2 linked regions of the Homo sapiens genome follow. The protein of the gene in region 1 purifies or fractionates together with the protein of each later gene. This does not show direct contact. Each region holds a gene or a part of one and is shown on either strand. Other genes may lie near its edges.

Region 1 (3,500 bases):
TGGCCATTGGGATACTGTGTTGCAGGCTATACAGTCTCTGAAATTGCCAGACAAAACCCTCATTGACCTCTATGAACAGGTAAGAGTGGTGGTGATGCTGATCCCCATGGGTTGGTTCGTTGTGGGCCAGCTCCCCAACTAAAAAGCGTCAGTGAGCATTCCTTCAAGCACGGTAGGGCTGCATCAGCCCATACAACAATGGCAAGGCTTGACATTGTATTTTTTCTCCCTTCTTGGAAAATCCAGGATTTCCCAAATTAAAATTCTTTCCTTTTTTTGAGACTGGATCTTGTTCTGTTACCCACTCTGGAGTGCAGTGGCAAGATCACAGCTTGCTGCATCCTCCATTTCCAGGATCAATCCTTCCTCCTGCCTCAGCCTCCTGAGTAGCTAGGAACACAGGCACGCACCACCACGCCTGCCTAATTTTTGCATTTTTCTGTAGAGACAGGATCTCACCATAATACCCAGGGTGGTCTCAAACTCCTGGGCTCAAGCAGTTCGCCAGCCTTGACTTTCCAAAGGGCTGGGATTACAGGCACGAGAGAGCCTCAACTTTCTAATCACATAGTTAGTCTTTCTGATAACTAGCTCCTACCTATCCTGAGCCATTTCCTTTGCACAAACCCAGGTGTGATTCAAGGGGCCCAGGAGTAACAAAGATACCCCTATCACTGGTCAAATTCCAAGAAGCTCCAAGCCAAGAACCTAGGACAAAGATCAGACAAATTTGTGATTATAAAACAGCAGAGTAGACTTTCTGGAAATAAGATTGTAATTTGAAGTAAAAGTAGTGAAATTGGTTTTTGGTTTTTGTTTACGGGTTTTTTTTTTTGTTTTTTTTTTGAGACAGAGTCTCACTGTGTTACCCAGGCTGGAGTGCAGTGGTGCGATCTCTGCTCACTGCAACCTCCATCTCCGGGGTTCAAGCGATTCTCCTGCCTCAGCCTCCCGAGTAGCTGGGATTACAGGCGTGCATCACCACGCCCAGCTAAGTTTTGTGTTTAGTAGAGACGGGGTTTCACCACATTGGCCAGGCTGGTCTCCAACTCCTGACCTCAAGTGATCCACCTGCCTCAGCCTCCCAAATGCTGGGATTACAGGTGTGAGCTGCCGTGTCTGGGCAGTTTGTTTCTTTACAATCCGTATGAGTTCAATAATTCCCAAAGAAAATTTTGGTAACTGGAGAAAGGTTTCTCTGGAGCCCATGGGTATATTCCCATCTTTAGCTTTCTTTGGCATCTACATTCTGAGCAAGAAGCCTGAGAGGAGGGGAGATTGGTAGATAAAAATGAAGGATAGAGTTTGAAGGATTGAAATTATTATTTATTTATTTATTGAGACAGATCTCGCTCTGTCGCCCAGGCCAGAGTACAGTAGCATGAGCTTGGCTCACTGCACTCTCCGCCTCTCGGGTTCAAGCAATTCTCCTGCCTCAGCCTCCCAAGTAGCTGGAATTACAGGCATATACCACCACACCCAGCTAATTTTTTTTGTATTTTTAGTAGAGAGTCTGTTTCACCACGTTGGCCAGGCTGGTTTCGAACTGCTGACCTCAAGTGATCCGCCCATCTTGGCCTCCCACAGTGTTAGGATTATAGGCATGAGCCACCAAGCCCACCAAGTCCACCTGAAATTGCTAGTGAAAATGGAAAGGGGCACTTCCTGGTATTGGAAATCCTTTGACAGGCCATATCTGTGTTAGATATTTTACCGAAAAATATTAATAAGACGGTGTGTTGAAACATCTGGGGTTTTTTTTGTTTTTTTTTAATTGTCCAGGTTGTTCTGGAATTGATAGAGCTCCGTGAATTGGGTGCTGCCAGGTCACTTTTGAGACAGACTGATCCCATGATCATGTTAAAACAAACACAGCCAGAGCGATATATTCATCTGGAGAACCTTTTGGCCAGGTCTTACTTTGATCCTCGTGAGGTATGACTGTGGTAATGAAAAGGAACTTTTTGTTAACTTTGGAAATGAAATAACATGATCTTTTTTTTTTTTTTTTACCATTTTATTGTATACTCTTTGTGATTTTGATTTAATTTTTGAGAATGATGCTTCTCTGTTTATATATGTTGGCTGAAATTTGCGTATGTTAAAGAGAATAATTTTGTTCAGTTTTCTGATTATTTGAGTCTTCTATACACCTCAGTTTAGAGGATTGCGTGTTGGTTAGTAAAAAAAGCAGAACATTTTATTCTGATGTCATTTCCACATTAGCCCTCCCCGAAGTGCTGCCTGACTGCTGGTATGTTCACTGATCATTTGTGTGTCTTGCCCCTAACAATTGTAGTTTCCTTCTAGCCTTTTTAGTCCCTAGAAGCTTTTGTTTCTTCGCGGATTATGCTTACCAGTAGAGCATGATGATAGTCTTTTATTCTTCCAAAACGTTATTATCTGTATAGTTTCATTCTTCCTAAACCTTATTATCTGTATGGTTTCATTCTTCCTGCCCACCCCCCCAGCCTTTTACTAGAGGTTTGTCAAAATAGGAGGAAAAAGGATTAAAAAAAATTTTTTATGGGTACATAGTAGGTGTATATATTTATGGGGTACATGAGATATTTTGATATAGGCATGCAGTGCATAATGAGGGTAAATGGAGTATCCATCACCTCAAGCATGTATCCTTTGTGTTACAAACAATTCAATTCTTTCAGTTATTTTAAAATGTATAATTATTATTGGCTATAGTCACCCTGTTGTGCTATCAAATACTATTTCTTATTTATTCTTTATATTTTTTGTATCTATTAACCATCCCCACTTTCCTTCTTACCCCCGCCACCTCCACCCTTCCCAGCCTCTGACAACCATCCTTCTACTCTCTATCTCCATGTTTTAATTTTTAGTTCCTGCAAATAAATGAGAACATGCAAAGTCTGTCTTTCTGTGCCTGGCTTATTTCGCTTACCATAATGAGCTCTAGTTACATGCATGTTGTTGCAAATGACAGGATTTCATTCTTTTATATGTCCAGCTAGTACACCATTGTGTACATGTACCTCATTTTCTTTATTTATCTGTTAATGGTCACTTATCGTTGCTTCCAAATCTTGCCTATTGTGAACACTGCTGTAATAAACATGGGAGTGCAGATATCTCTTTGATATACTGATTTCCTTTTGGGTGTGTACCTAGCAGTGGGATTGCTGGATCATATGGTACCTCCATGTTTAATTTTTTGAGGAATCTCCAAACTATTCTCCATAGTGGTTGTACTAATTTACATTCCCACTAATAGTGTACGAGGGTTCCTTTTTCTCCACTTACTCACCAGCATTTGTTATTTCCTGTCTTTTTGTATAAAAGCCATTTTAACTGGAGTGAGATGATATCTCATTGTAGTTTGATTTGCATTTCTCTAATGATCAGTTGTGTTGAGCACCTTTAAATAAACCTGTTTGCCTTGTGTGTGTCTTTTTTTGAGAAATGTCTATTCAGATCTTTCACCCATTTTTAACATTGGATTATCAGATTTTTTTCCCGTAGAG
Region 2 (3,500 bases), on another chromosome or scaffold:
AAGTTTTCTGCCTTCTGCATCCATCACAATAAAATTATTTTAGAAAATTTTTCTTGAGGTAGTATATGACACAAAAGGAAACAGAATTTGCATTTGTGACTTCTATAAAATGTCACACTGAAATAAGAATGATGCGTTTTGTAATTCTGAATTTAAAAACCCATTTAATCCAAGTAGACGACTATGGGAAATAAATGATGACAAATAAAAAAATTAATATTCTTGAAGAAAAACAAAACAATCTACATATAATAAAATATATACAAGGTAAAGAAAATAGTAAAGGAAAGTAGTGATCTCACTCACTCTGATATACAATTGCATCATTTCTTTTTCTCTTTGGGGGTTACGATACTTCTCATAGAAATCACGTCGCTTCTTTGTTTCTTTAGAAACTTTATCTTTTCTTTCCCGTTTTTCTGCTGGTTCATCTGAACTATCAGATGATGACTGTACGTGTATCTTCGGCTTTTCTACTTCAATATAGTTTTCATTGGGATTTAGTACTATTACTCCATATCCTTCCTGTTTTGAAATGAAAGAAGGTAGCATAATTTAAATCTTATAATCCATTTCAATTTTCAAAAAAGTTCTTAAAATTTCAGTCTAAGCAATTTTTATATAGTTGCATATTCATTAAAATACTCCTTTAGGCAAGATAATGATTTTATTTTTTTCAAAAGAAAGTCATTTAAAATTGTTTGCCTTTATTGTGTATATAAATAAGCTTTTATTATTTATAAGAACAAAAAATATAATTGCAACATAAAGATTATAAAGCTTAAATTAAAAAACTAATTCAGATATCTCAGAACCCAAAAATGACTGAAATAAATTAGCAAATAATTTATTTTCAAGTAAACTTTCAAATTATATTAATATTTATACTATCTGTTTTGAGAAAACAACCTCTGAAATCAAAGTTTACAATTCAAACTACATTTTTTTGTATATTTTTCTTTACAATGGCCCTTTCAAGAGCATTTTTTATTTGTCTGAACAATTAAAAAGAATAAGCAGTTAAAAAAGAATAAATCTGATTTAACATTACAAAACCATCCATACCTACATTATTATAAAGACATAACATCTACTTGTGTACCTTGAATTTTATTCACTTTGTTTCTCACAGGAGGCCAGAAAAATCATGTAGCAAAATAAGCCACTGTCTTACTATAATGTATGGAAGCAAGTCTTTAATCTTAAAATTTCTTTCATTTTTCAACCTACCATAAAAATTCTCTTTATTAAAAACTATAATCAGGAAATAAGCAAGGTTCCAAAGTTAAAAAATACAGCTTGTTGAGCTATTAAGGCTTTTTTTTTTTTAAATTTGTAAAACATGTTTTCCTGTCTCATTTCTTTCTAGCCTGGCAAACATTTCTGTGGTTATAATTAAGAAAACGTTTGATATTTATATTATGTCTAATGGAATAAGCTAACCATGAGAAAATATAGAGAGGGATAAACAATAACCATTGACAAGCATGGGTAACACAAATTTTTGAAGCTATTATATATCTTGTCTTTTCTATTCAGTTATGTGTTGTGAGGTTCCAATTATGTCCTTGTAAAATACTATAAGGTCATATTTAAAAGATGTATGATATTATAATAAAAACATAAGAGCTACAGAAAATAGCTCACAAAATCTATTTATTAGAAAATCTATTTAATAGAAAATAAAACTTATAAAATCTCATCCTTACTTAAAATAGGTAGTATATATAGTTTTTCAAGACAGTAACTGTAGAATCTTCTACTTGAAGTTTAAATTTTAAATTTTTTGCCAAACCAACCATAAGATGATTTTAAAAAATTGACAGCAGTAATAGTAAACCAGTAATAGCACAGACTCAATTATCTTATTTTAAAATATGCTGCATTACTGCACATGGTTGGTTTTTTTAAACAGTTGATTTCACAAACTACTTACAAACTTCTTTGGAATTGTTTTCTATTTTTTCCTCCATCAGATGATATTATTGTCTAAAACGATTATTTAGTTTGGAAATTTTCAAGATCACTGAAGTTCTGATTTTAATGATAGGACTATTAATTAAGATACAGTCATCTTACATATATGGAAACTATATAATAATATATAGCAAACTGATTTACAAACCACCACCCATTCTTCAACAGATGTTCAAATAAAGCTTTTAGAATAATGCTTCTTTCACAAAAAGCTTATAAAACACTTTACACATTCTGTAATTTAAACTTTCTACATCAAAGCAAAAGAGAATTTTTTTTAAAGTTTCTTAGCTCTAAGTCAAAAGTTTTACCAACAAAAGATATTTTATTTGGTCCTGCTTTATTCTAATCTGTATAGCTATTCAAAAGTCTTGTAATTCATTGTGATCACTGTCAGGTAGACAGATTGTCACTTGGTGATTTTCTACAGTTGGACACACTTGACTAGTTATTAAAATCACATTTGAAGGAAGTTCCTACCCCTCTTCCTTGTGCCTCTTACAACTTTTCACGCCCTTCTCAAATTTCAGCTATAACTTCTCCTCCCACCAAAAGTAAGTTAAAGAACACTGTTGCACTCTGCTAAACAGGGTGAAATAGAGGCATTCAGTACACTGTCTCTGGTGTAAGGAACATAGTCAAAAAAGGTCACCATAGGCCAAAAAGAAAATTGCCTCCCTACTAGATTCTGTACCGTGAGTAAGTGGTCTCCTGTCATGTTTCTTCCTTGCCTTCTCTGAGTGAATTGAACTTTAAACACACATACACACATACACATACACATACACACACACACACACACACACACACACACACACACACACACCACCCTCTCATACTCAGGAGTTAAAATTAGCAAGACCAAAATAGAATCTTAAAATTAGTAGAGATGAAAATAGTGATATACTACATTTTAATGATAATATGAAAAATTTCAAATTCAAAAACTTCACTCAAGGTAAAAGAGTGGGACTTTAATAAGCTGAAATAACATGGCATCATCTTTGTATAATGAATAAATCTCAAATAAAGGTAAACTCTTTGAACAAAATTTACAGTCACCAGAATTGTAAGACTATTATCTTATTACTTAATCAAAAAAATAATATTTTCATATCTGGCTTATTTGAGCAGAACTTTAAACTTCAATTTTTAGAAATCATAGATTGAAAAATTATCGTGCCTACTTAATTTGAAATAAGACTCTGAAATTTGATATGTTCCATGTAAATAAGTATTTTAAAAAAGGCATTTATATATCATCAAAGAAGCAGTATTTGTCTAAGTAACTGAAAATTACATGACTCATCTGTTCAATATCATAAAGGCACAATGTCAATGTTTCCCTTAGGCATCAACAGATGAGAAATGATTCTATTTTTAAATCACCACTATATAAATCAATTGAAGATTTGTTATCATTTAGATTTCAACAATGGATGCTTCTATTTAAACACCCAAACTATTTAGAAAATATTTTATCCTTTAGATATTTCAGATTGCCAATTTAATTAATGTGACAA

What was found.
Region 2: the proteins of SMU1 (region 1) and ARB2A fractionate together in Homo sapiens (co-fractionation; one large-scale study listed by BioGRID). This does not show direct contact.

What each region holds. Positions count from the first base shown.
Region 1 is NC_000009.12:33,070,175-33,073,674, reverse strand, and holds part of SMU1 (WD40 repeat-containing protein SMU1), read left to right. Parts: coding exon 1-79; intron 80-1,782; coding exon 1,783-1,935; intron 1,936-3,500. UniProt on the Homo sapiens protein: Involved in pre-mRNA splicing as a component of the spliceosome. Regulates alternative splicing of the HSPG2 pre-mRNA. Required for normal accumulation of IK.
Region 2 is NC_000005.10:93,881,164-93,884,663, forward strand, and holds part of ARB2A (cotranscriptional regulator ARB2A isoform 1 precursor), read right to left. Parts: intron 526-3,500; coding exon 307-525; intron 1-306. UniProt on the Homo sapiens protein: Plays a role in the regulation of alternative splicing, by interacting with AGO2 and CHD7. Seems to be required for stabilizing protein-protein interactions at the chromatin-spliceosome interface. May have hydrolase activity.